Linked DNA regions of Homo sapiens. The protein of the gene in region 4 interacts with the protein of the main gene of each other region in a pairwise test. Each region holds a gene or a part of one and is shown on either strand. Other genes may lie near its edges.

The links.
Region 1: the proteins of PROX1 (region 4) and HNF1A interact in binary tests that used the Homo sapiens proteins (3 or more experiments, as listed by UniProt).
Region 2: the proteins of PROX1 (region 4) and NR5A2 interact in binary tests that used the Homo sapiens proteins (3 or more experiments, as listed by UniProt).
Region 3: the proteins of PROX1 (region 4) and RORA interact in a two-hybrid assay, tested with the Homo sapiens proteins (one study listed by BioGRID).

Annotation. Positions count from the first base shown.
Region 1 is NC_000012.12:120,995,514-121,002,552, forward strand, and holds the end of HNF1A (hepatocyte nuclear factor 1-alpha), read left to right. Parts: intron 1-748; coding exon 749-900; intron 901-1,027; coding exon 1,028-1,229; intron 1,230-1,960; coding exon 1,961-2,152; intron 2,153-3,754; coding exon 3,755-3,876; coding exon of another isoform or gene 3,877-3,969; coding exon 3,970-4,114; intron 4,115-4,972; exon of another isoform or gene 4,973-5,551; coding exon 5,552-5,679; 3' UTR 5,680-6,999; downstream 7,000-7,039. UniProt on the Homo sapiens protein: Transcriptional activator that regulates the tissue specific expression of multiple genes, especially in pancreatic islet cells and in liver. Binds to the inverted palindrome 5'-GTTAATNATTAAC-3'.
Region 2 is NC_000001.11:200,170,676-200,177,714, forward strand, and holds the end of NR5A2 (nuclear receptor subfamily 5 group A member 2), read left to right. Parts: intron 1-3,287; coding exon 3,288-3,535; 3' UTR 3,536-6,740; downstream 6,741-7,039. UniProt on the Homo sapiens protein: Orphan nuclear receptor that binds DNA as a monomer to the 5'-TCAAGGCCA-3' sequence and controls expression of target genes: regulates key biological processes, such as early embryonic development, cholesterol and bile acid synthesis pathways, as well as liver and pancreas morphogenesis.
Region 3 is NC_000015.10:60,487,758-60,491,315, reverse strand, and holds the end of RORA (nuclear receptor ROR-alpha), read left to right. Parts: 3' UTR 1-3,032; downstream 3,033-3,558. UniProt on the Homo sapiens protein: Nuclear receptor that binds DNA as a monomer to ROR response elements (RORE) containing a single core motif half-site 5'-AGGTCA-3' preceded by a short A-T-rich sequence.
Region 4 is NC_000001.11:214,032,934-214,039,972, reverse strand, and holds part of PROX1 (prospero homeobox protein 1), read right to left. Parts: intron 4,328-7,039; coding exon of another isoform or gene 4,325-4,327; coding exon 4,139-4,324; 3' UTR 1-4,138. UniProt on the Homo sapiens protein: Transcription factor involved in developmental processes such as cell fate determination, gene transcriptional regulation and progenitor cell regulation in a number of organs.

The DNA.
Region 1 (7,039 bases), on a different chromosome or scaffold from region 4:
CTTCATCCACTCACTCCACTCTATACCATTCCACTCCACTCTATTCACATACTCCACCATTCCAGTCTACTCCATTCACTCCACTCCAACCCACTCACTCCACTCCATACCATTCCACTCCACTGTGTTCACACAACTCCATCCATTCCACTCTAGCCACTCCATTCATTCCACTCCACGCCACACTATTCCTCACCATTCCATCCACTCCACCCTATACCATTCCACTCCACTCTATTCCTCCCCACCCGTCCTCTCCACCCTTTACCACTCCACTCGACTGTACCCATTCCACTTGATCCCACTCATTCCACTCAATTCCATCTACTCTACTCCACACCATCCACTCCACTTCATATCATTCCACTCAACTCAACCTAAGTTGATTTGGGTTAATTCAATTCAATTCATTCATTTCAGATTGTATCAATTCAATTCATTTCAATTCAACTAAATTCAGTTAAATTCAGTTCAGTTGTCTTCTACTGAGCACCTACTGCATGTCAGGTATAGCACTAGGCAGTGGGAGGAATGGAGCTAATAAATGCAGTCCCAGCCTTCAAGGAACTGGGAGCAGCTGACCCAGGGCTTGGCAAAAGGTAGAAACAAAGGCAGATTTGCTGGCTGCATAAAGGCAGACAGGCAGCTGGCCTAAGCAAACCAATGGAGTTTGAAGTGCTGAGGGCTGTGGAGGCAGGGGAGGGCAGGGAAGTGGGGTGCTGAGGCAGGACACTGCTTCCCTCTCCAGGTGTGCGCTATGGACAGCCTGCGACCAGTGAGACTGCAGAAGTACCCTCAAGCAGCGGCGGTCCCTTAGTGACAGTGTCTACACCCCTCCACCAAGTGTCCCCCACGGGCCTGGAGCCCAGCCACAGCCTGCTGAGTACAGAAGCCAAGCTGGTGAGTGTCCTTGCTTGTAAGGAAAACCCAACCTCATCTTTCCTTGGCAGGGAGATTCTGGAGCAGTCCCTAGGGAGGCCCTGTGGGGACCCCGGCCCCCCGGACACAGCTTGGCTTCCCCTCGTAGGTCTCAGCAGCTGGGGGCCCCCTCCCCCCTGTCAGCACCCTGACAGCACTGCACAGCTTGGAGCAGACATCCCCAGGCCTCAACCAGCAGCCCCAGAACCTCATCATGGCCTCACTTCCTGGGGTCATGACCATCGGGCCTGGTGAGCCTGCCTCCCTGGGTCCTACGTTCACCAACACAGGTGCCTCCACCCTGGTCATCGGTAAGCTGGTGGGGATGGGTGGGCACCTGGGTGGGAGGCTCATGGGGCAACCGCAGAATCCAGGAGCTGGAAGAGCCACTGGGACTCATTCATTCATTCATACAACATGTATTTATCCAGTGCCTACTCTGGACCAGTCACTGTGCTACATCAGTGATACCTGGGTGAACCAAACAGACCAAAATCTCAGCAACTCAAGCAGGGAGGCAGGCACTAAGCATAATACATCAATTCTGTGGTACCTCAGAAGGTGAAGGGTCTATGGGCAAATTACAGCAGGGTAAGGGGGACTGATGTTTTCTAAGTTTTTGTTTTATGAAGAAAAATTAAGCCCAGAAAGCCCTTATTTGCAGGTACAATTATGCAGAAGCCCAGTACATAAGATAGATAAGGAGCTGCTAGGAGAGGGGAGCAGAGAACTGACCCCATGGCCTTTGCACTGCTGTGGAACCCCAGGGCTCCAGGGAACCGCAGTTTGACAACTTTTGAACAAGTCACCGCCTGCCTCTCCCACTAGCCTAGACAAAGAGCTAAAGGCTCAGAGAGGGGGAATGACTTGCCAGAGCCACTTAAATTAGTGGCAGGTCCCAGTGGAGGGCTGTTTCCTGACCACCCTGCCCCCTCCTCCAAACCACGGGCTCTGGGAAGGAGAGGTGGTGCCCTTGGGAGGTCTTGGGCAGGGGTGGGATATAACTGGGGGGCCCAGCTGATTCCCTCCCCTTCCACTCCAGGCCTGGCCTCCACGCAGGCACAGAGTGTGCCGGTCATCAACAGCATGGGCAGCAGCCTGACCACCCTGCAGCCCGTCCAGTTCTCCCAGCCGCTGCACCCCTCCTACCAGCAGCCGCTCATGCCACCTGTGCAGAGCCATGTGACCCAGAGCCCCTTCATGGCCACCATGGCTCAGCTGCAGAGCCCCCACGGTGAGCGCCCTGTGCCCCACACAGCAGGAGATGATGATAGAGGTTGGCTGTCAATGGATGCAGGGGAAAGGGGTGCCTGGCAGGCATTGCAGTCTGCATGTGTCTCTGGGACAAGTGTGTTTCCGTGATTGAGGGTGTCTGCAGGCCAGTGTGTTCCCATGTGAATGCACGTATCTGTGTGTGTGCACGACTGCTTGTGTGAGCAGATCCCTAGTGCGTGTCTGGGTGTGTATCGGTTGTGCATGCATTTGTGTGCATGCCTGTGTTTCTCTGAAACTCTTAGGGCCATATGAATTTCTAAAATCTATTCAGATTTTAGAAAGGTAATCTGGGGCCAGGCGTGGTGGCTCATGCCTGTAATCCCAGCACTTTGGAAGGCCGAGGTGGGCAGATCACTTGAGGTCAGGAGTTCAAGACCAGCCTGGCCAACACGGTGAAACCCCGTCTCTACTAAAAGTACAAAAATTAGCCAGGCGTGGAGGCACGTGCCTGTAGTCCCAGCTACTTGGGAGGCTGAGGCAGAATCGCTTGAACCTGGGAGGCGGAGGTTGCAGTGAGCTGAGATTGTGCCACTGCACTGCACTCCAGCCTGGGCAACAGAGTGAGTACTCTGCCAAAAAAAAAAAAAAGAAAAAGAAAAGTAATTTGGTGGATATGCCAGCTATCACATAACACTCCCAGCAGGGTTTGAGACAGCCCCCTGTGATCAAAGCACTGCTATTTCTGCAGCCAAAGATAGGATTTCCACAAGGCAGTTTAAACACTCATAACCTCATACCAGGTTCAGGCTGGGTTTCGCCACCAAATGAGCTCTAGTGCCAATCTTAAGGAAATCTTTTGGTTTCAGACCTTTTTGGAATTTGGGACTGGGTTAAGAGATTTGGGGCCTGTGTATGTCTGTGTGTACATGGTTGAGAGTGTATGCGTGTGTGTGTGTTACATTTTTATCTGAGTCACTGTGAGAATATGTGGTTTATGTGCGTTTTCCTAGTGTCTGTGTGTCTCTTGTAGGGTCTATGTGTCTCCTGAGGGGTGGGTGGAGGTGCTGTAGGCAAAACATGGGGTTATATTTGGAAAGGTGGCCTGGAGATGGAAGTACTGCTGTCCTCTGCCTTGCTCTTTGACAGGGGCCACCTGAACTTACTACACAGCACCTGAGTTTAGTACAGTAGCACCTGTGCTTAGTACATAGCACCTGTGTTTAGTATAGTAGCACCTGTGCTTAGTACATAGCGCCTGCATTTAGTACAGTAGCACCTGCGCTTAGTACGTAGCACCCGTGCTTAGTACAGTAGCCCTGCACCTGCACCTCCCGTTCCCTTTCATACCTGCTGTCTCCAGGTGACAAGAGGAGCTGGAGTTGGTTTCTGGCCTCCTCCAGGCTCCCCTGCATCAAGCGCAGCTGAGCAGTTCCCTGTAATGGGGAGAGGGTCTGTCCCTTTATCTGGAGCCTCCAGTTTTGAAAATCAGCCCTGGATCTCCAACTGCTGCCCAGTCTGGCTGTTCAGCAGGCCCCATGCCCCCCTTTCCCCAGTCTTGAGGCCTGGGACTAGGGCTGTCAGGCACGTCTGCCACGTCTGCCCCTCTCTCCCCTGCGGCCAGCCCTCTACAGCCACAAGCCCGAGGTGGCCCAGTACACCCACACGGGCCTGCTCCCGCAGACTATGCTCATCACCGACACCACCAACCTGAGCGCCCTGGCCAGCCTCACGCCCACCAAGCAGGTAAGGTCCAGGCCTGCTGGCCCTCCCTTGGCCTGTGACAGAGCCCCTCACCCCCACATCCCCCGGGCTCAGGAGGCTGCTCTGCTCCCCCAGGTCTTCACCTCAGACACTGAGGCCTCCAGTGAGTCCGGGCTTCACACGCCGGCATCTCAGGCCACCACCCTCCACGTCCCCAGCCAGGACCCTGCCAGCATCCAGCACCTGCAGCCGGCCCACCGGCTCAGCGCCAGCCCCACAGGTGAGAGGCCCTGGCTCCACCCCCTCCCTTACTGTCCCTGCCCCCTTCCATGTTGGTCCCACCCCTTCTGTTGCTGTCCGTCACTGTGGGGCTGTGCATGCAGCAGGCCTAGGGCTGCTGTGAGGAAGCACTGGCAGGCGTGGAGGGGTGGGGTGGGCTTCCATGAAGCCCAAGAGGCACAGGCGACCCCAGGAAGATGGGGCCCACCTTACAAGAACATCTCAGGGACTGGACTGAGGAAAATGATGAAGTAATTGTTAGAGGCAGTGGAGAGTAACGATAAGGACCAGGTCTGTGAGCCAGAAGCGACTCTTGCATGTGTTTGGTTTGGCTTGGCTCAGGGTTGAACATTCTTTGAATTTGTTGCCAACATTTCAAAATCAGGAATTTTCACATAGAAATCCAGATTTCTGGCATCTTTTGGAAAATTGGAAAAATTCATATTCCCATATAACAGTGCACCAGGCCTCACTGCATCCACTCACATCGGCTCCAATGACCCCTGGCGGTGGGGCGGTCACCTGAGTTTGTAATCTATGATGCCATTGTCAGGAGTGGGCACTTTGGAGTCAGGTGGGTGGGCTTTGCAGCCTGCCTTTTTGCAAGCTGCCCCCTTTCTATAAGGTTCCTGGACCCGGCCCTGGCAGCTGTCATGACAGCCACTGAGGCCATTCTGTGTCCTGGCATTCACCCCATGAGGCGTGTCCATGACCACCCCCATTTTACAGATGAGAAAGTGGACACTCAAGGAGGGGAGGGACTTGCCTCATCTCCCACAGCTACCAGATGGCAGGGCCAGGACTCGAACCCAGGTCCCACCTCAAAGCCCATTCTCTTAACCATTGCCATCAGTCAGGGTTCTCCAGGAACACAGAACCAACAGATTTATTTGAAGGACTTGGCCCGTGTCTGCGGGGGGCTGGCAGGCCTGAAATCTGTTGCTGGCAGCTCTGGGGAGTGAATTCTGCAGCCTTGAGGCAGAATTCCTTCTCTGGGAAACCGGTTTTTGCTCTTACGGCCTTCCACTGATGTAGGAGGCCCACCCATATTTTCAGGGTAATCTCCTTCACTCAAAGCCAACTGATTGTGGCATTAACCACATCTACAAAGCACCTGCATTCACAGCAGCGCCTAGATTAGTGTTTGACTCAGCCTAGCCAAGCCAACACGTACAACTACCTACCTCGGCATCTCACCGGGGCTTCTCCAGTGTTCACACTAAGATGTACTCAGGCCACTCCATGGGCGGCCGTGGACCCTGGCTGGGAGGCTCCCTTTGAAGAACCGAGGGTAGAGGTGTGACTTTGGGGTTCCTGTTATCTGCTGTGATCCAGGAGGTGTGGCCCTGCCTCCCCATCCTGAGTACCCCTAGGGACAGGCAGGTGGGGTGGGTGTGGGTGCCTGGTGGGTGGCTAGCAGCCTTGTTTGCCTCTGCAGTGTCCTCCAGCAGCCTGGTGCTGTACCAGAGCTCAGACTCCAGCAATGGCCAGAGCCACCTGCTGCCATCCAACCACAGCGTCATCGAGACCTTCATCTCCACCCAGATGGCCTCTTCCTCCCAGTAACCACGGCACCTGGGCCCTGGGGCCTGTACTGCCTGCTTGGGGGGTGATGAGGGCAGCAGCCAGCCCTGCCTGGAGGACCTGAGCCTGCCGAGCAACCGTGGCCCTTCCTGGACAGCTGTGCCTCGCTCCCCACTCTGCTCTGATGCATCAGAAAGGGAGGGCTCTGAGGCGCCCCAACCCGTGGAGGCTGCTCGGGGTGCACAGGAGGGGGTCGTGGAGAGCTAGGAGCAAAGCCTGTTCATGGCAGATGTAGGAGGGACTGTCGCTGCTTCGTGGGATACAGTCTTCTTACTTGGAACTGAAGGGGGCGGCCTATGACTTGGGCACCCCCAGCCTGGGCCTATGGAGAGCCCTGGGACCGCTACACCACTCTGGCAGCCACACTTCTCAGGACACAGGCCTGTGTAGCTGTGACCTGCTGAGCTCTGAGAGGCCCTGGATCAGCGTGGCCTTGTTCTGTCACCAATGTACCCACCGGGCCACTCCTTCCTGCCCCAACTCCTTCCAGCTAGTGACCCACATGCCATTTGTACTGACCCCATCACCTACTCACACAGGCATTTCCTGGGTGGCTACTCTGTGCCAGAGCCTGGGGCTCTAACGCCTGAGCCCAGGGAGGCCGAAGCTAACAGGGAAGGCAGGCAGGGCTCTCCTGGCTTCCCATCCCCAGCGATTCCCTCTCCCAGGCCCCATGACCTCCAGCTTTCCTGTATTTGTTCCCAAGAGCATCATGCCTCTGAGGCCAGCCTGGCCTCCTGCCTCTACTGGGAAGGCTACTTCGGGGCTGGGAAGTCGTCCTTACTCCTGTGGGAGCCTCGCAACCCGTGCCAAGTCCAGGTCCTGGTGGGGCAGCTCCTCTGTCTCGAGCGCCCTGCAGACCCTGCCCTTGTTTGGGGCAGGAGTAGCTGAGCTCACAAGGCAGCAAGGCCCGAGCAGCTGAGCAGGGCCGGGGAACTGGCCAAGCTGAGGTGCCCAGGAGAAGAAAGAGGTGACCCCAGGGCACAGGAGCTACCTGTGTGGACAGGACTAACACTCAGAAGCCTGGGGGCCTGGCTGGCTGAGGGCAGTTCGCAGCCACCCTGAGGAGTCTGAGGTCCTGAGCACTGCCAGGAGGGACAAAGGAGCCTGTGAACCCAGGACAAGCATGGTCCCACATCCCTGGGCCTGCTGCTGAGAACCTGGCCTTCAGTGTACCGCGTCTACCCTGGGATTCAGGAAAAGGCCTGGGGTGACCCGGCACCCCCTGCAGCTTGTAGCCAGCCGGGGCGAGTGGCACGTTTATTTAACTTTTAGTAAAGTCAAGGAGAAATGCGGTGGAAACTTCTTGCTTGTCCACAAATCATTCAGATGGGGTTTGGGC
Region 2 (7,039 bases), about 14 Mb from region 4:
ACATAAGCACGTTTCCCTTAACACAAAACTGACCAGTGAAAATCCTCATTTGCAAAACATGTAAATTAGAACTTGATTATTCAGATCACAAAAGGATTCATCACAGGACTTTTTGAATAGAAAAGACTATTACATGTAAAGTACAGTATTTTATTTCAGGGAGAGATCCATTACATATATGCCAAATTTTTGAAAATCAGTTTCTAGTTAGAAAAAGGAAGGAAATTGGCTTGTGAAATAATTTAACAGGTCAAATTCACAATTGTATCAATCTTGGACAAATGCACCAATAATGTGAAGCAAGGAGTTACCGGTGTATTCCCTGGGGATGGCTGAACTAAAGCATATCCCTTATCCCCAGGAGCTTACGGTCTGCATAGGGAAACAGACAGTTAAATAGACAGAAGCCAGCATCAAGGCAGGCAGCAGAGCAATGATCCTGGAATGGCATGGTCAGTAAATGAGAGGAATTCACTCAGAACTTCTTCAGGATCATTGCCATGTGTATAGATGTAGAAACAAAATAGACATTCGGCAAGTAAGAATCTTTGGGACAATTAGCAGCATATGTTTTATTATTTCATGATAACATTCATCAAAATAGCTTAATGGGATAATTAACTCAGGCATGTGGATTCAATTCTGATCAGCTTTAGCAAAAAATAGTATATTTAGCCAAAATATGAGACACCTATATATTTTCCTGCCAGAAGGAAAATTGCACATATTTCCCAAGTTTTGGGGGAAAAGGGTGTCAGTTTGGACCAGTATTCATAGAAATTAACCATCGAGGCTGGACGCAGTAGCTCACGCCTGTAATCCCAGCACTTTGGGAGGCCAAGGTGGGTGGATCACTGGAAGTCAGGAATTTGAGACCACCCTAGTCAACATGGTGAAACCCCATCTCTACTAAAAATATAAAAATTAGCTGGGTGTGGTGACACAAGTCTGTAACCCCAGCTACTCAGGTGGCTGAGGCAGGAGGATTGCTTGAACTCAGGAGGTGGAGGTTGCAGTGAGCCGAGATCGCACCACTGCACTACAGCCTGGCAACAGAGCAAGACTCTGTCTCAAAATAAAAAAAAGAAAGAAGTTAACCATTGAATGCTGAGCTGAAGACTCTAAATTATCATTCTATAATAGTAAGTGGATAAACCAAAACTTATGATCTAGCCTTTGTTTTATGTTTGTTGGTAGTTTTCTTTCTTTTTGTTTTTCCTTAACAGAGCAGCATAGTTTATCACAGAATGTTAAAACTGGTTCTCAAAAAAATACAATTATCAAAAAAGGAAAGTTTCAAACAACTTTCTAAAAAGGGTATTCTTCATTTTTCTTACATTTTACATTCATTCTATGCAAATTTCTACATCCTCTCTATTAATCTCTGACTGTTACTAGCTTTGCTTGCTGGTGAGAGTATTTTTCACTGTAGCGTAAAATAATACTGCATTTCAAATTTTTAATAGTCATGTTTTAATCACTATAATGCAAAACAAATGTAGATTTTTCTATCATGTACCAAGGTAGGACATATTGAAGGTATTTCTGATTGTTTATATTTTGCAATTTTGAACCAAGTATGACTCTGGATACATAGCCATACTTATAAATATTTTTAAGTAACTTAAAATCATTTTTAAAATATATTAAATAAGACAGGTGGAATATGCTTTACTAACTGTAAAGTGCCGCATGGGTAAAATGTCCAGAGCACACCAATGTGGTTGCCAATTTAAATGCCACCGGAAGACTCAGAGCTCCTTATTGTGTAGTATTTATGTTTGTACAACTCATCAATGAATAATCAACTATGTTTGAGTCTGCCATCTCACTTTGAAAGAGATATGGTACCAACTCACTACATAACTATTTCAGTACTAATTCCTCACTGTTTTTAATTTGGGTCAGAGACTTGGGGATGGAAAGGGGAAGCATGTTTAATGCAAAGCTATGGCCCAAATGTAAACACTGAAATCGTCCTGAACACACTTCAACAGCGAATGTATGACAGCCCAGTGTAAAGCCATTTAGAAATAACAAGATGGACATGTACACATATGTAGGTTAAGTTCAACAGTATATAATGCCCAAAACAGTATATAGTGGGTATGAATTACTTGAACCGAGTTTAGTATCTTTATCCTTTTAGTCATAGTACTGTGTGGTTTTCTCCATATTCTCTTTCTTATTTATTTTTGTCCAATTAGAAAATAAAGCAGGGCAGGGTGGCTGCATCTGTTTACTTTCTGAGCATGGGTGTATGTAAACACACACACGTATCTGTCTATTTTTTCCAGAGGCTTCTATGTACACATCATATAAAAGTCATACTGTTAACATAAATCAACCCCAGAAGAGAAATTCCAGCATACCGTTTTCCCTTGCCTATTGTCTGTGTGTGTGTTTGTATGTCAGTCTGTCTTTTTTTATTCTGGCTTTCTCTCTTATTCAGTATTTATAAGGACCTTTAGGGCAGATGTCTAAAAACAACTGCATAGTCATCAGGAGTTAGGCGGAATGAAATGCCTTTGCTCATCTTCTCTACATGAGTGACCAGAAGAAAAAAAAGAAACACAGAGTATCAGACTTTAGAAACTACATGCAGGTTAAAGGGCACTGACCATCCTGGCTTGTGTTCTGCCTAAAGGACAAGGCTCTCATTTGATAAAGATCATTAGTCACCAAGATATATATTTTAGAGAGTTCCCAGTAGCGAATATTCTGTTGGCAGTCACTGGAGTGTACCAGATGGTTCATTAGCATAGGCTAGACAAGTCAAAGACTTTCAGAATCATTTAGAAAATGTCAAACAGAAACAAGAATCCTGTCACTTTTTATTAGAATTAACTACATCATACCCTGGACACAGATTTCACCTTGGGTCAGAAAAATTAATACAGAATTATATGAATTGTGTAATATACTGGGTTAAGATAGGTCTTTCTCCAGGGACTCATTTGCTGGCAATATATTAAGATCCCTCTACTTTAGGAATCCTCAATCCTTTCCTTTTGTAAGATATGAAAAGAGTTGACCTTGCTCAAAATCCACTGGTGTCTAATTGATTTGAGGTATATGCAGAATTTCAACAAGACATTCTTCTAAAGCTCTTTTGTGATCCTTTTCCCAGGAAGTTTGGTGAGTGGGGTTTACTGAATATTCAGCAGCATGTAAAGTATGTTTATGTCAAAAGGAAAATACATCCATTAATTGAACACATTGCTTTAGTAAACAGGAATTGAAATGCTATTGAAATGTTGCTTTTTTTTTTTTTTTTTTTAATGCAGATGTCAAAAACCTTGAAAACTTCCAGCTGGTAGAAGGTGTCCAGGAACAAGTCAATGCCGCCCTGCTGGACTACACAATGTGTAACTACCCGCAGCAGACAGAGAAATTTGGACAGCTACTTCTTCGACTACCCGAAATCCGGGCCATCAGTATGCAGGCTGAAGAATACCTCTACTACAAGCACCTGAACGGGGATGTGCCCTATAATAACCTTCTCATTGAAATGTTGCATGCCAAAAGAGCATAAGTTACAACCCCTAGGAGCTCTGCTTTCAAAACAAAAAGAGATTGGGGGAGTGGGGAGGGGGAAGAAGAACAGGAAGAAAAAAAGTACTCTGAACTGCTCCAAGTAACGCTAATTAAAAACTTGCTTTAAAGATATTGAATTTAAAAAGGCATAATAATCAAATACTTAATAGCAAATAAATGATGTATCAGGGTATTTGTATTGCAAACTGTGAATCAAAGGCTTCACAGCCCCAGAGGATTCCATATAAAAGACATTGTAATGGAGTGGATTGAACTCACAGATGGATACCAACACGGTCAGAAGAAAAACGGACAGAACGGTTCTTGTATATTTAAACTGATCTCCACTATGAAGAAATTTAGGAACTAATCTTATTAATTAGGCTTATACAGCGGGGGATTTGAGCTTACAGGATTCCTCCATGGTAAAGCTGAACTGAAACAATTCTCAAGAATGCATCAGCTGTACCTACAATAGCCCCTCCCTCTTCCTTTGAAGGCCCCAGCACCTCTGCCCTGTGGTCACCGAATCTGTACTAAGGACCTGTGTTCAGCCACACCCAGTGGTAGCTCCACCAAATCATGAACAGCCTAATTTTGAGTGTCTGTGTCTTAGACCTGCAAACAGCTAATAGGAAATTCTATTAATATGTTAGCTTGCCATTTTAAATATGTTCTGAGGGTTGTTTTGTCTCGTGTTCATGATGTTAAGAAAATGCAGGCAGTATCCCTCATCTTATGTAAGTGTTAATTAATATTAAGGGAAATGACTACAAACTTTCAAAGCAAATGCTCCATAGCTAAAGCAACTTAGACCTTATTTCTGCTACTGTTGCTGAAATGTGGCTTTGGCATTGTTGGATTTCATAAAAAATTTCTGGCAGGAAGTCTTGTTAGTATACATCAGTCTTTTTCATCATCCAAGTTTGTAGTTCATTTAAAAATACAACATTAAACACATTTTGCTAGGATGTCAAATAGTCACAGTTCTAAGTAGTTGGAAACAAAATTGACGCATGTTAATCTATGCAAAGAGAAAGGAAAGGATGAGGTGATGTATTGACTCAAGGTTCATTCTTGCTGCAATTGAACATCCTCAAGAGTTGGGATGGAAATGGTGATTTTTACATGTGTCCTGGAAAGATATTAAAGTAATTCAAATCTTCCCCAAAGGGGAAAGGAAGAGAGTGATACTGACCTTTTTAAGTCATAGACCAAAGTCTGCTGTAGAACAAATATGGGAGGACAAAGAATCGCAAATTCTTCAAATGACTATTATCAGTATTATTAACATGCGATGCCACAGGTATGAAAGTCTTGCCTTATTTCACAATTTTAAAAGGTAGCTGTGCAGATGTGGATCAACATTTGTTTAAAATAAAGTATTAATACTTTAAAGTCAAATAAGATATAGTGTTTACATTCTTTAGGTCCTGAGGGGCAGGGGGATCTGTGATATAACAAAATAGCAAAAGCGGTAATTTCCTTAATGTTATTTTTCTGATTGGTAATTATTTTTAACAGTACTTAATTATTCTATGTCGTGAGACACTAAAATCAAAAACGGGAATCTCATTTAGACTTTAATTTTTTTGAGATTATCGGCGGCACAATCACTTTGTAGAAACTGTAAAAAATAAAAGTATCTCCTAGTCCCTTAATTTTTTCATAAATATTTCTGGCTTTTGAGTAGTGTATTTATATTGTATATCATACTTTCAACTGTAGACAATTATGATGCTAATTTATTGTTTCTTGGTTTCACCTTTGTATAAGATATAGCCAAGACTGAAGAAACCAAATATATGTGTTTACTGTAGCATGTCTTCAAATTAGTGGAACTTAGTTCAGGGACATAGAAGAGTCTTAATGAATTAAAATCATTCACTTGATTAAATGTCTGTAAATCTTCATCATTCCTACTGTAGTTTATTTAATATCTATTGTAAATTATGTGACTTGTAGCTTCCTCTGGTTTTCAAGTAAACTCAACAAGGTGGAGTCTTACCTGGTTTTCCTTTCCAAGCATTGTAAATTGTATACCAAAGATATTAGTTATTACTTCTGTGTGTACAAAGAGGATTATTTTATTATGTTTATTAATCACCTCTAATACTCATCCACATGAAGGGTACACATTAGGTAAGCTGGGCGTTGACTCATGCGCAGTCTCAGTCACCCGTGTTATCTTCGTGGCTCAAAGGACAATGCAAAATCGCCGATCAGAGCTCATACCCAAAGCATTACAGAGAACAGCAGCATCATTGCCCTCCCCAGCTGAAAAACAAGTTGGCTAGAAGATACATGGAGAGGAATGGTGTGGTCAACAGTTAATGAAACGGTTCTATCATGCATGTGTAATGTGGATGGAGACAATTATAAGATTTGACTATAACTATTTGGAGGGTCTTTAACATTGCCAAAAAAACAAATATGTTGATTTTTATTTTATTTTATTTTTTATTTTAAGAGGCGGGATCTTGATCTCACATGTTGCCCAGGCTGGCCTTGAACTCCTGGGCTCAAGCATTCCTCCTGCCTCAGCCTCCCCCATAGCTGGGACTAGGGGTGCATGCCAGCATACCTGGCTACGTTGACTCTTAAAATCTATGTTCTCTTATTTTAAAGATACAGTGCTCCCCACTGAAAATTAAACCTAAAAAATGTCACATATTGGTATGTTGTTAACCTGGTAGATTAAATCATGAGAATGATTAGAAAGACGGGCAACACAGCGGGTTACATCCACACTGCTGATCACACCAACGACAGGAGCTGATAAGCAAGAAAGCGTCACAGCCAGCGTCTGTTCACCCAAGGTTGACAAGTGAAGTTTCTCTAATGTTGATTGTTAGCCGATTTGTAACCTGGCATTTACTTAGCAACTGCCTTATCAATTACAGGATTTGCCGGTAAAAGCAGACTCAAATATAAAGGTTTTTGGCTTAACTTGGTTTATTATAGTTGCTCTATGTTTGTAAACAGACAATCTCTAATGTCTGATTATTTGTATCACAGATCTGCAGCTGCCTTGGACTTGAATCCATGCAATGTTTAGAGTGTGAAGTCAGTTACTTGTTGATGTTTTCTTACTGTATCAATGAAATACATATTGTCATGTCAGTTCTTGCCAGGAACTTCTCAACAAAATGGAATTTTTTTTTTCAGTATTTCAATAAATATTGATATGCCCAGCCTGATAATTTTTAAAAGTTTTTATGTTGTCCTCATTCTATCGGATACTAAAGCTTCTAAATAAGAGACTTGACTAGGAGTGAAATCAAAAGAATCCCACAGGAATAGATACTTTTCCCTTTAGATAACTTCTAGAGTGGTTGGCTGTCCTTCCATGGATACCTGAAGCATTAAATTCAATCTGAGCATCATCTCTACATGTGAAACAAAGTATTTTATATCATTTACTGTTATAATCAATAAGCAGAAAAATCTTAATAGCATCTCACTTTTTTGTAGAGCTTATGTTGTCCTGATAACTTTCCCA
Region 3 (3,558 bases), on a different chromosome or scaffold from region 4:
ACATGCCATTATGTTGTTCTCTAAGAACAACTAAATTCTCTCCAGTGTTCATGTGTGATTCCTTTTTCATCATTATTACTTTAATGTGGATGAATACTATTTCTAGGAACTTGATTATCACTGAACAGATTGCATATGTAAATGCAGATAATTCTTGAGCAATATAGTGAAAATGATTTCACAAAAAAAATCCATATGTACTGTATACATCTTCCTGAATCCAAAATTCTCCTGTTATCCACACAGTTTGAAATCTCATATTAAACAGTGGTAAATTTTTAAACATTAGGACATTAGCTGGCTGCTTCTATAAATGTACCTGTATTGTCTGCCTGCTCCTTTTGTGGAGATGTGTTTTTGTATTGGATGTTTGGGCCAATGGGAGGCTTCAAGCTACAACATATTTTCCCACTTTAAATAATATTTAACATATGACAAACCCCAGACAAGGCTTTTAATATGTATAAAGAACTGCAGTGTTAGGTGGTTTATTTGCAAACTGTTTTCAGTGTTGTCCATTTTTATGGCACCTTTAACAATATTCTTGTTTCCAAAGTACAAAAAAAATAGGTTAAATAATCTAGCCATAACTGAATGTCAAGCAATAAAACAAATGACTTTTGTGCATAGACTTAAAAAATACAAATTTTAGACATCTGCATGTAAATGCAATCTCTTGTTTACTGCTTTCTTCAACTTGAGCAATCGATTCCTTATTTACTATTAACTTAAGAACTTGTAACGGCCTGTAAACATTTTCTCTCTTACTCTTCTTTCAAATTTACCTGTCCCTGCTTTTGAGTCATAATATTTAATGTTGTTCTGCACATCTCTATACAGTTAACTTTTTGGCTTTCATTCTGTATAGATAAGAAAATGTTATATTATAAACAGCCTACTCAGTGCAAATATTTATCTGTTTATCAAATCCACAATATGCTGTATAATACCGGTTTTACTATATAATCTATTTTAGACATAGCTGTTTAGAACTAGAGTGTGCTATTTTTGTGTTTTTCTGATGTGTGGTGCTAGACAAGTTACTTTTGTGAACAACAAAAATTATCCCTTTTATTCCTAGACAATACCACCTTTGGGTCTTGTTAATTTCACTGAGTATAACTATATATTTGTATATATATACATATATATATATATCTACCTATGCCCAACTGGCAGCTGTATCAGAGTGCTGGATTTGGGACATGCTTTTCTCTTTAAATACATAATATCATTATATAAATTATTCTAGAGTGTATTTAATTAGGATAAAATTACTTCCTTAGTATGGATATTTGACATCTATAGGGTGAATTTGTTTATAAATATGGCTATATGGAAACTTATTAGCATTTACTTTATGTTTGCTACTTGGCTTTACAGCATATCTCCTAAGCTGAAAAATAATTTGCCAGGCCTTCAAGATCCTAAAGAAACTTGTTTAATGGAGTAATATACTTTTTTTTCTTATTAAGGAATTGTATTACTGGCACCTAACACAGTTGTATTCTTAGCTCCTATTATAGATAATGGGCATTTACATAAAATATCCTAGATGGCTTGATGGCAGAATAAACCTTTCCCCTCCTACCTGAGTCATGAGAAGGATGGAGACGTCCTCTGCCATAACATGGGCCATAAAGCAAATTCGACATGGGATGTTCTGTTTCAGTATGACCTCAACCAGTTCCATGAACTGAGTGAAGGACCTTCATTTTCAAAGTTATTTAATAAGTAGCTTAATTAAGCCTTTCTACCCATTCTCCCAAGATCTACTGGCATTATTGAAAAGCAAAGTTTATCAAATATCTAACTAAGGATGTAGTTAACCTTATTAAATATTGATTAGAATTGTTCTGTAATATTACTGAATTTGTAAGATCTTTAGCAAAGATTTTTGAGCAATTTATAAATGTAGAGCAAATGTTTCTGTTTACTGCACTTTTTGTAACTGAAGGTGATAAATTCTCAAGCCATGATTATTGGCTTCCATGCACTGCAATATTTATCCACAATTCTAGACATTTTCCATTTTTGTGGAAGAGTTGCTGTTACCTTAATTATAAATGCAATTGTGTGGTTAATGAGAGCTAATGCTAGTAGTTAACCTTTTAAAGTGGATTGGCTACAGTTGAGGGAGAAATCTCTTTTAATATAAATCACATCATTCCTTAACTGCCTCTCTTGGAAAGAGATTGAAACCTTTTTTTTAAAGCACGATTTAGCATCCTAAGCTTCCTGAGGGTAGAGATTGTATCTTTTTGCGTCTGCACAATGGCTAGCACATGTCAGCATTTGACAATTGTTAAATGATAACAAGTGTGCCCCAATTAAAACGTTTTTCCTGGGTTGTTTTGTTAAATTTACAAAGTAAGCCAAGCCTTACGGTTAACATTCTCCTCTACAACCAAGTATTAAAGCCACATTTAAAAAGACCACATGAAATGCTGATTCTAATTGTGTGTAGGTCTTGAGGATTAAGCACACAAATTTCACAAACTTCTGTTTGAGTAAACAAACTCAGCCTTCTGTAAATATACATGCAAGTTTGGAAACAGTAATACTGTACCTATAAATATATGCTGTCTGTTTTGTGTACAGTATGTAAAAACTCCTTTTCTGCCACACTAAAAATGCAAGCCATTTATGGGAATCCTAAAACTAGTATTGAACTAAAACTTTGCTAATGATCTTTATTAGAGGATCGTCCAACTTTTCACTTACCTTGGGTTTTCTTTTCAATTCACTCTTACACTAGTCTGCTTATTTCCAGCTGTTTATTTTATTGAGTCCTGAATTTAAAAAAAAAATATTTTGATTCATTTTGTAAATACAAGCTGTACAAAAAAGAGAGATTTAATGTTGTCTTTTAAATACTCCAATTTTCATTCTAATATGAATGTTGTTATATTGTACTTAGAAACTGTACCTTTAATATTACATTACCTTTATTAAAAGTGCATTGAACACATCAATTTTAGATGTGCTTTATGTACTGTTATCCTATAATAAAACTTCAGCTTCTAATGGAACACTTGCCTTGTTTTTCTTCTTTTTTCTTGGTTATTGAATTGGACTGTACATAGTTTCCTAGCTTACATCCTGTCTCTAGTGAAGGGTCTAGGAGAGAGTAGGTAAGTGTGGTCCAGACTAGCAGCACGGCATCTCCTGCGACTTTGTTGGAACTGGATAATCCCAGCACTACCCAGACCTACTAAATCAATCTGCCTTTTTATAGGATCCCAGGTGATCCGTATGCACATTAAAGTGTGAGAAGCACCGGTGTATACCACAGCACCTTTTTTTTTTTTTTTTGAGACGGAGTTTCGCTCTTGTTGCCCAGGCTGGAGCGCAATGGCGGGAGATCTCGGCTCACCGCAACCTCCCCCTCCCAGGTTCAAGCAATTCTCCTGCCTCAGCCTCCTGAGTAGCTGGGATTACAGACATGCACCACCACGCCCGGCTAATTTTGTATTTTTAGTAGAGACGGGGTTTCTCCATGTTGAGGCTGGTCTTGAACTCCTGACCTCAGGTGATCCGCCAGCCTCGGCCTCCCAA
Region 4 (7,039 bases):
TTGCACTGTCTTCACATATACACTGCTTCTTTCAGGGGAGTCTGTAAACTACTCTTTCTTTCATAAATTTATGATTGTTCCTGGAGGACATCCTATTTTTTAAAGTCCCCAAATCATTAGCTTTATGACAGTGTGTGTGTTTGTGTGTGTGTGTGTGTGTGTGTGTGTGTGTATGCGCACATGTGCGCATGGGAAGGGGGGGTGTTACTTACTAAATGTCTTCATGTACATAGAAAAAGAAATTTCATAAATTTACAGAAACTGCATTACCCTTGCCCTTGACATCTGATAAAAGAGATTGTTAACTTTTAAAAGGAGAGAGCAGGATTTTCAAGAATGCTTTCAACTGTCTATACAGTCACTGTAGTGTTCCTAGTAAATTCAACAGATGTCGTGAGAATGTAGTTATTTATTAAAATCTCATGTCTTACATAATGACAGCCATGAGGTTAAATATTTACATTGCTTTATAAAAGTTCCCCTCTTGCTTTAGTGTTTCTGTTTTGCTTTTTTTTTGTTGTTTTAAATTTTTTTAAATGATATTCACCCACATCCCTAGTACAGTGACAAAGATTCTGCAAACATAAAACACTTCTTTAATTAAATAATACTCGGAGGCACAAAGCAAACTTCAGGAATATGTGGGTGAACGTTTACTTAAATAATTACTACATTCTAACATCTTCCATGTGTTTTACCATTTAATGTGAAACGTCCTCATTAAACAGCCAGAGATACAGTAAGAATTAAATGTTTTGTTGCAAATAGAACATTCTTTTCACAAAACATAACAAATGTCTAAAATAGGTTCTTAAATCTAGATAGGAAAAGGTAAGCTTTCCACTTCACACGCATATATATATATGTATATTTTTACATGTGTGTATATGTGTGTATGTGATTTTATGTTCACACATCTGCGCACACATATATAGCACATGGTATGAAATATTGCTTCTATACTACTTTTCATTAGGCTAAGAAAACACAAGATTTGCACCACAGTTACAAAAAATTGGCTTCTACAAGAATTTTCAAAACTCGAATGCTGCTCAAACAATTGAGGAAAAAATAATTTGCGGTATCAAACTGTTCTAAAAATTCTCTTCTTCAAAAACGTATTCTCCCGCTTTGTTTTAAAAAGACACAAAATATGCATAGCTATCAACGTTATGTCAAACAGCCAGAAAAAAAATCTAGTGTTTATTGCAGCTGTAGTAATTGGAAATAAAGTCAAAAAGATGAAATCGAAAGCCACAGAAGGCACAAGAACAATTGTACTTGTTGGGAAAAAACTGGTATTTTGAAGGATTTTTTAAAATCCCCCCCGCTGGTGCATTTTAGGTCTAGGCACAGACTATAACCTCAAGCGTATACGCAAAAATAATTTAGGGTTAGCAGAAAATAAGTGGTAGTGTGGTTTTTCAACATGGACTTTAGACTTTTTTTTTTCTTTTCCTATGTAAACTGTCCCTCATCCTTCACCATCCCACCATAGAAAGTTAACTTTCTCCCAAGTAGCCAATTTTCACTTGGTGAGAGTTGAGCTAAGATTTGAAAGATGGTGATTAAAAAAAAAAAATCAAACTGTTAAATAGGAATTTGGAGAGACAGGCTTTTGTCATTTTCCAATGCACTTGGGAGGCACAAGATTTCGATTGTAAAAGGGAAAACCACCGGAAAGCATAGTGATAAAGTTCTATTTTCAGAACAAAGAGGTGAGTTTATCCTCATGCTGCAATTTCTACTCTGAAATAATTTCTATGCCTCAGTGAACATTGAGAGGATATTATCAGTAGATAAGGGCATCAACATTTGGTTGTGAACACACACTTTTGCTTAATTTGTCTATTTAAATTAGAAAGGGAGGGGAAAATAATACTAAAAAAATCCAAATAAGTCTGGAATCAATATTGAACTCGCCCCAGATCAAAAAGATATCTAGCAATCTGTCTACATAGGTGAATACACTACAGCTTTGCCTTTTACCTTGCAAATGGCAACACAAAGTTGATATGAATTACACGGAACAGCAAAAACCCAGTGGCACACTGACACGAACAAGGACTGCCATCCTCTTTTAAAACAAAGCCAGTCAGAAAACTGTGACTACAAGTTGGGATTACTTCCCTATTTTGTGCTGATGGAATTTTTCCTTCCCACTTTATTCCAATGTCATGATTATCCAAACTGCTTTTTTTTAAAGCAAGTGAGAAAAATAACAAATTGGATCTAATGACTCTGTGCATTAGTAGAGTGTGAGCTGGGAGATGTGTGAGGCCGCGGGTGCAGAGTGAGGTGGCTGGTGCCCCCGCCCGTGTGGCTGCACCCTCTGTCTACACTGCGAGGCCCTGTTAGTCCCCTGGATGGTGCAGGGCATCATAGGACTGCACCATTTAATTTAAAGTCAGCAGGTTTTAAGGCTTTGTGCTGACAATAATTGAGTTCATACATTCCTGTCCATCAGCAGAATTTATAAATGACGTTAAATTACAGCGATCGGGTCAGCTAGTCAGTCACATGGGTCAAGACCTGTATTCTCCAAAGTCAAATGTAATTCTTATTAAAGTTGAATTAAAAAATGGCATTTATGTTCTATATGTTCTAAATACCAGATTTGTTACTGTGTCATTTTAGGAGGTGTATATCAAATTACCTAAGGGGAAGGAAGGGTCTGGAAAACAGTTTTAGGATGAACAATGAATTCTTACTGCATCTGGACACAAAAACCCACCTAAGAAAAAAAGTGTGAATGCCATACGAGTTTTTTCAATGCAAGTAGGGAACACTGTACATCATTGAAAAACAGGGAAAAATAAAAGGGAAAAAAGAGGAGAACCATGGAAGAAAGCATAAAATAGCAGCTAGCTTTCTTATGTGTGCTGGAATTGTGTCTTTTGGGTTAACCCCAAATTTTCCTATGCTATACACTCTTCTCACATTTTGGTCAATACTAGCTTCTGAATTGGAAGAGGCATTATCAATTGCTTTAAAATGTTATACCTAAAATGAAGAAACACTGAGTTAGACTGTCACCACTTTGCATACCCATCAGGATAGTGTGGAATTGCTTGTGAAAATATATGTGTTCCTCTTAGGAGATGACGATCAAGTCAGCTAATGGCTGTCAACAAACTTCTAGTGTAGGCAAGAATTTTATGGCCAAGTTGGGCTTTCCTTTATTCCTTACTGGAAGGAAGTATTCAGAAAATAGTATTTTAGGGGAAAAAATTGTTAAGTAAACAGAATCCTTTTAAGCATATAAACAAAGTTGAGCAGCGTAAATTGGAAACTTAGTGCCTTTTAGTATCTGAAGCAAAAATGATAACAAGTTATAGGATTTTTCTTTATGAAGAATGATGTAAGCTCACTTATGAAGAAGAACCTATTTTCAAGTTTAGAGAGGTGGCTACAAGACCAGGTATGAATTTCTAGTCTCATCTTGAGAGAGCTGGTTTTGTGCAAAATTGCTTTGCCTCCAGAAGAAACTGGTACGACTTTCAGAGTTTGCCTCTTTTCTTAGACAAGGCTTGAGAGTGATTATTTTTCTTTTTTAATTTGGCCTTTTGGGGTACTTTGGAAAAGTGAGCTGCTCATCTGTCATTGGAATTATTTTTAAACATGTAAGGAAAAGCTACTGATTGAGTTCAAACCAAACAAAATACTTAAATGTATGAAGTGGTTTCATTAAATTTTCAGACCTTCTTAGCAGTAGAAACAAGAGACACATCACTGTCTGTAGAGTTGTGCTGTGTCATGGGTTTTCCTCAGCCAACCGCCATTTGCAATAAGTCATCAATCAAGTGGATGCATCGTTAACAAATTCCCTTCATTGCTAATAGAGACTTTACACACGCCAACATTCTTTTTCCCTGAAAATTAACCCTATTTTAAGTGTCCAAATGTTAAGGGCCTTGGGCAAAAGCAAACTAAAGGCAGAAAGAAAACAACCATCCCCTTGCAATGGAAAACAAAAGAAAATGAGAGAAACGTGATGAGGAGGAATTACCAGCTGATTTCATAACATATCCATGCCTCCCATACACATATATATGAAATCAAAATCTAGACACATATAACTTGGACATCCAAAGGGGACTGCTACTCTTCATACATTCAAAAAGAGTTGTTGAAATTTCTACTCATGAAGCAGCTCTTGTAGGCAGTTCGGGGATTTGAAAATCTCAGGGACTTCACTATCCAGCTTGCAGATGACCTTGTATATGGCCTTCTTCCAGGAAGGATCAACATCTTTGCCTGCGATAATGGCATTGAAAAACTCCCGTAATGTGATCTGAGCAACTTCCAGGAATCTCTCTGGAACCTGCTGATACAAGGAGACAATGGCATTAATAAAGTTTTCAGTTTCAAGTCTACAGTTATTCCAAGGAAACTGAGCTAAGATCATTCTTGCAGAAAGGGGCTTACATGGCACCTGCATTTTCTAAAAATAGCTGGCTTCTATTCTTTTAATGTAAAGTCATTATATATAGAAGCATTGTGATGTGGGGTTGACAGCTTTGTTTTAAGAAGAGTGTATGAAAGATCCAACGCAGACCTATTGAAAAACTGGGATTTCATTGTGGATATTAGGATAGGAATATGGGATGTGACTTTTGGGATTCCTCACTTTATTAAATAAGTGCTATCCAGAAGAAAGTCTCCAATTATTTTTTCAGAATTTGAATCCTATTTCTTTTTGATTGCCATGATGAAAACAAAATACGTTCTCAAAATAGAATAACAAATAGTTGGGCTTCTTTATAAATTAAACCCAAGCTTTAAATGAAGAAAATCTTCTAAAATCTCAGTTATCTGTTTGTCTCAGAGGATTGTTGACTCAGATGCTAAGTTGTATATTAATCTGCAATATAAAGTATTCTATATACATAAAGGAGTAAAATAATAATATTAACATGAAGTCACAAAACTGATCCTAAAATATTACATCAGAAACTACTTAACCTTGAGATTAGAATTGCTCCATAAGAGAGTGATTTATTCAGCTGATAATAATAATAATACAAACTAACTTTTTTCGAGTATTTACTACTTGCCAGGCTATGTTTTATGTACTGAATGTGAATTATGTCATTCAGTTCTCCCAATCTCTCTAAGGGGTGTTATTATCCCAGTTACACAATAGAAAACTGAGGCTCAGAGAGGGTAAGGAAATTCCTCAAGGTCCTTATCATCCAAAATAAACATTCCCCAAATATTCATTTTAGAACCCCAATTTCTTAAGGCTTTTCTTCCACAGCAATTAATATGTATGTGTGTTGTGTGTGTGTGTGTGTTCTCTTAATTACTTATTAATCTGATCTCTTGACTAAGGAAAGCAGTAGCTACTGATGTACTTATTTAGTGTTCTTTGGAAGTTACTTATAGTACAGCATGGTCTATCTATCCCCACACCAACATAATGGAATCACAGAATAATCCATGAACTCATGATTTTCCAAGTACACATTGACACTTAGTAGATTTCTTTTAGTGGGGTACTTATACACCAGTAAAGTTTCATTTTTACATTAAGTGCAGACGTATGAGGACATAAACGTATCATAGGTGTACATGTAGCCATATTTATCTACGCATATACAAGAGATGAAAGACATTTCATCTAAGTTCAGACATGCCACGTACCAAAGTAAAAAGGAAGTAGTGTAATGTTGAACATGTTTCATCTCTTTCTTCCCACCTTGGGTGCAATGTACTTTTTAACAATAGTAGTAACTGGTAAAGAAAACCAGAATCATCACCCGACATCACTGTTTTTCACGTTTAAAATTGGACAAAGAAGTTCATTGTTCCCTATGGCAAGTTAATTGTTGTTTATAAAGAAATGTAATAACTCTGCAGAAAAAAATGAAAGGGACTCCTTTTGGGGCCAATCAGTCTTAAGCTTACATTTTTATCAGACCCTCCTAAAGACTTTCACACTGGCCCATTTCTTAGGACATAATTCCCAGTGTTGCCTGGAAAATCCTTCAAAGTGCCGCCTTGTCCGCCATGAATGTGCAAACCCATACACCTCAAGGGCCATTCTCTGCTGAGAATTCATGTGGATTTTCTACAGGCCTTTGGGTGATTTCCTCCCAAATGTCTTGTATACATGAGTATTTGTTGGAGGAGAGCTTAGCCCTCCCACTCACATTATACAAATAAAAATTCGTGAAGCAATCTTTTCTAGCACAGTCACCTCCACCCCCAAAGATAATCCTCCACATTCTATCAAATGAGCATCACTGAGGGAGGGAATGTGGCTGGAGAACAGTGAAGCGGAGCAACTGCCCACTCTCACTCCTTGGATTGGGAGCTGTTAGCCAAATGCTACAGAAACATAATCATAGGCATTTATTAATTTATTTATTTGAGATGGAGTTTTGCTCTGTCACCCAGGCTGGAGTGCAGTGGCATGATCCTGGCTCACTGCAACCTCTGCCTCCTGGGTTCATGAGACTCTCCTGCCTTAGCCTCCTGAGTAGCTGAGATTACAGGCAAGTGCCATCACGCCTGGCTAACTTTTGTATTTTCAGTAGAGATGGGGTTTCACCATGTTGGCCAGGCTGGTCTCCAACTCCCAACCTCAGGTGATCTGCCCGTCTTGGCCTCCCAAAGTGCTGAGATTACAGGTGTGAGCCACTGCACCTGGCCAATTATAGGCATTTATTAAAATAAACGTTTCAAGAAGGGTGGTTTCATCAGCCAACGGCAATACAGCCTCAGTGAAATTCTATGTTCCTTGAGCACTCAGGGATGCAGCATGACATGGCAGAGAGCTTTGAGGGGTGAAGGTGTGGGCAGCTGCCCCAGAGAAGCCAGAGAAGGCCGGAAGCCCTGCCCACACCAAGAACTGCACAGGAGGTCTGGGGAACCAGGGACAGGGGAAGGGCAGGCATTGTTCAAGACTGTCAGAGGAGAGAGAAGAGGTACATCTAGAACATCAGCAGCAGGGGAGGGAGGGAAGTGTAGTTGTAGGATTTGCATGAGAACAAGGCAACTTCTTTGGGGGTTGTATGCAGTCTCCTCTTCATCA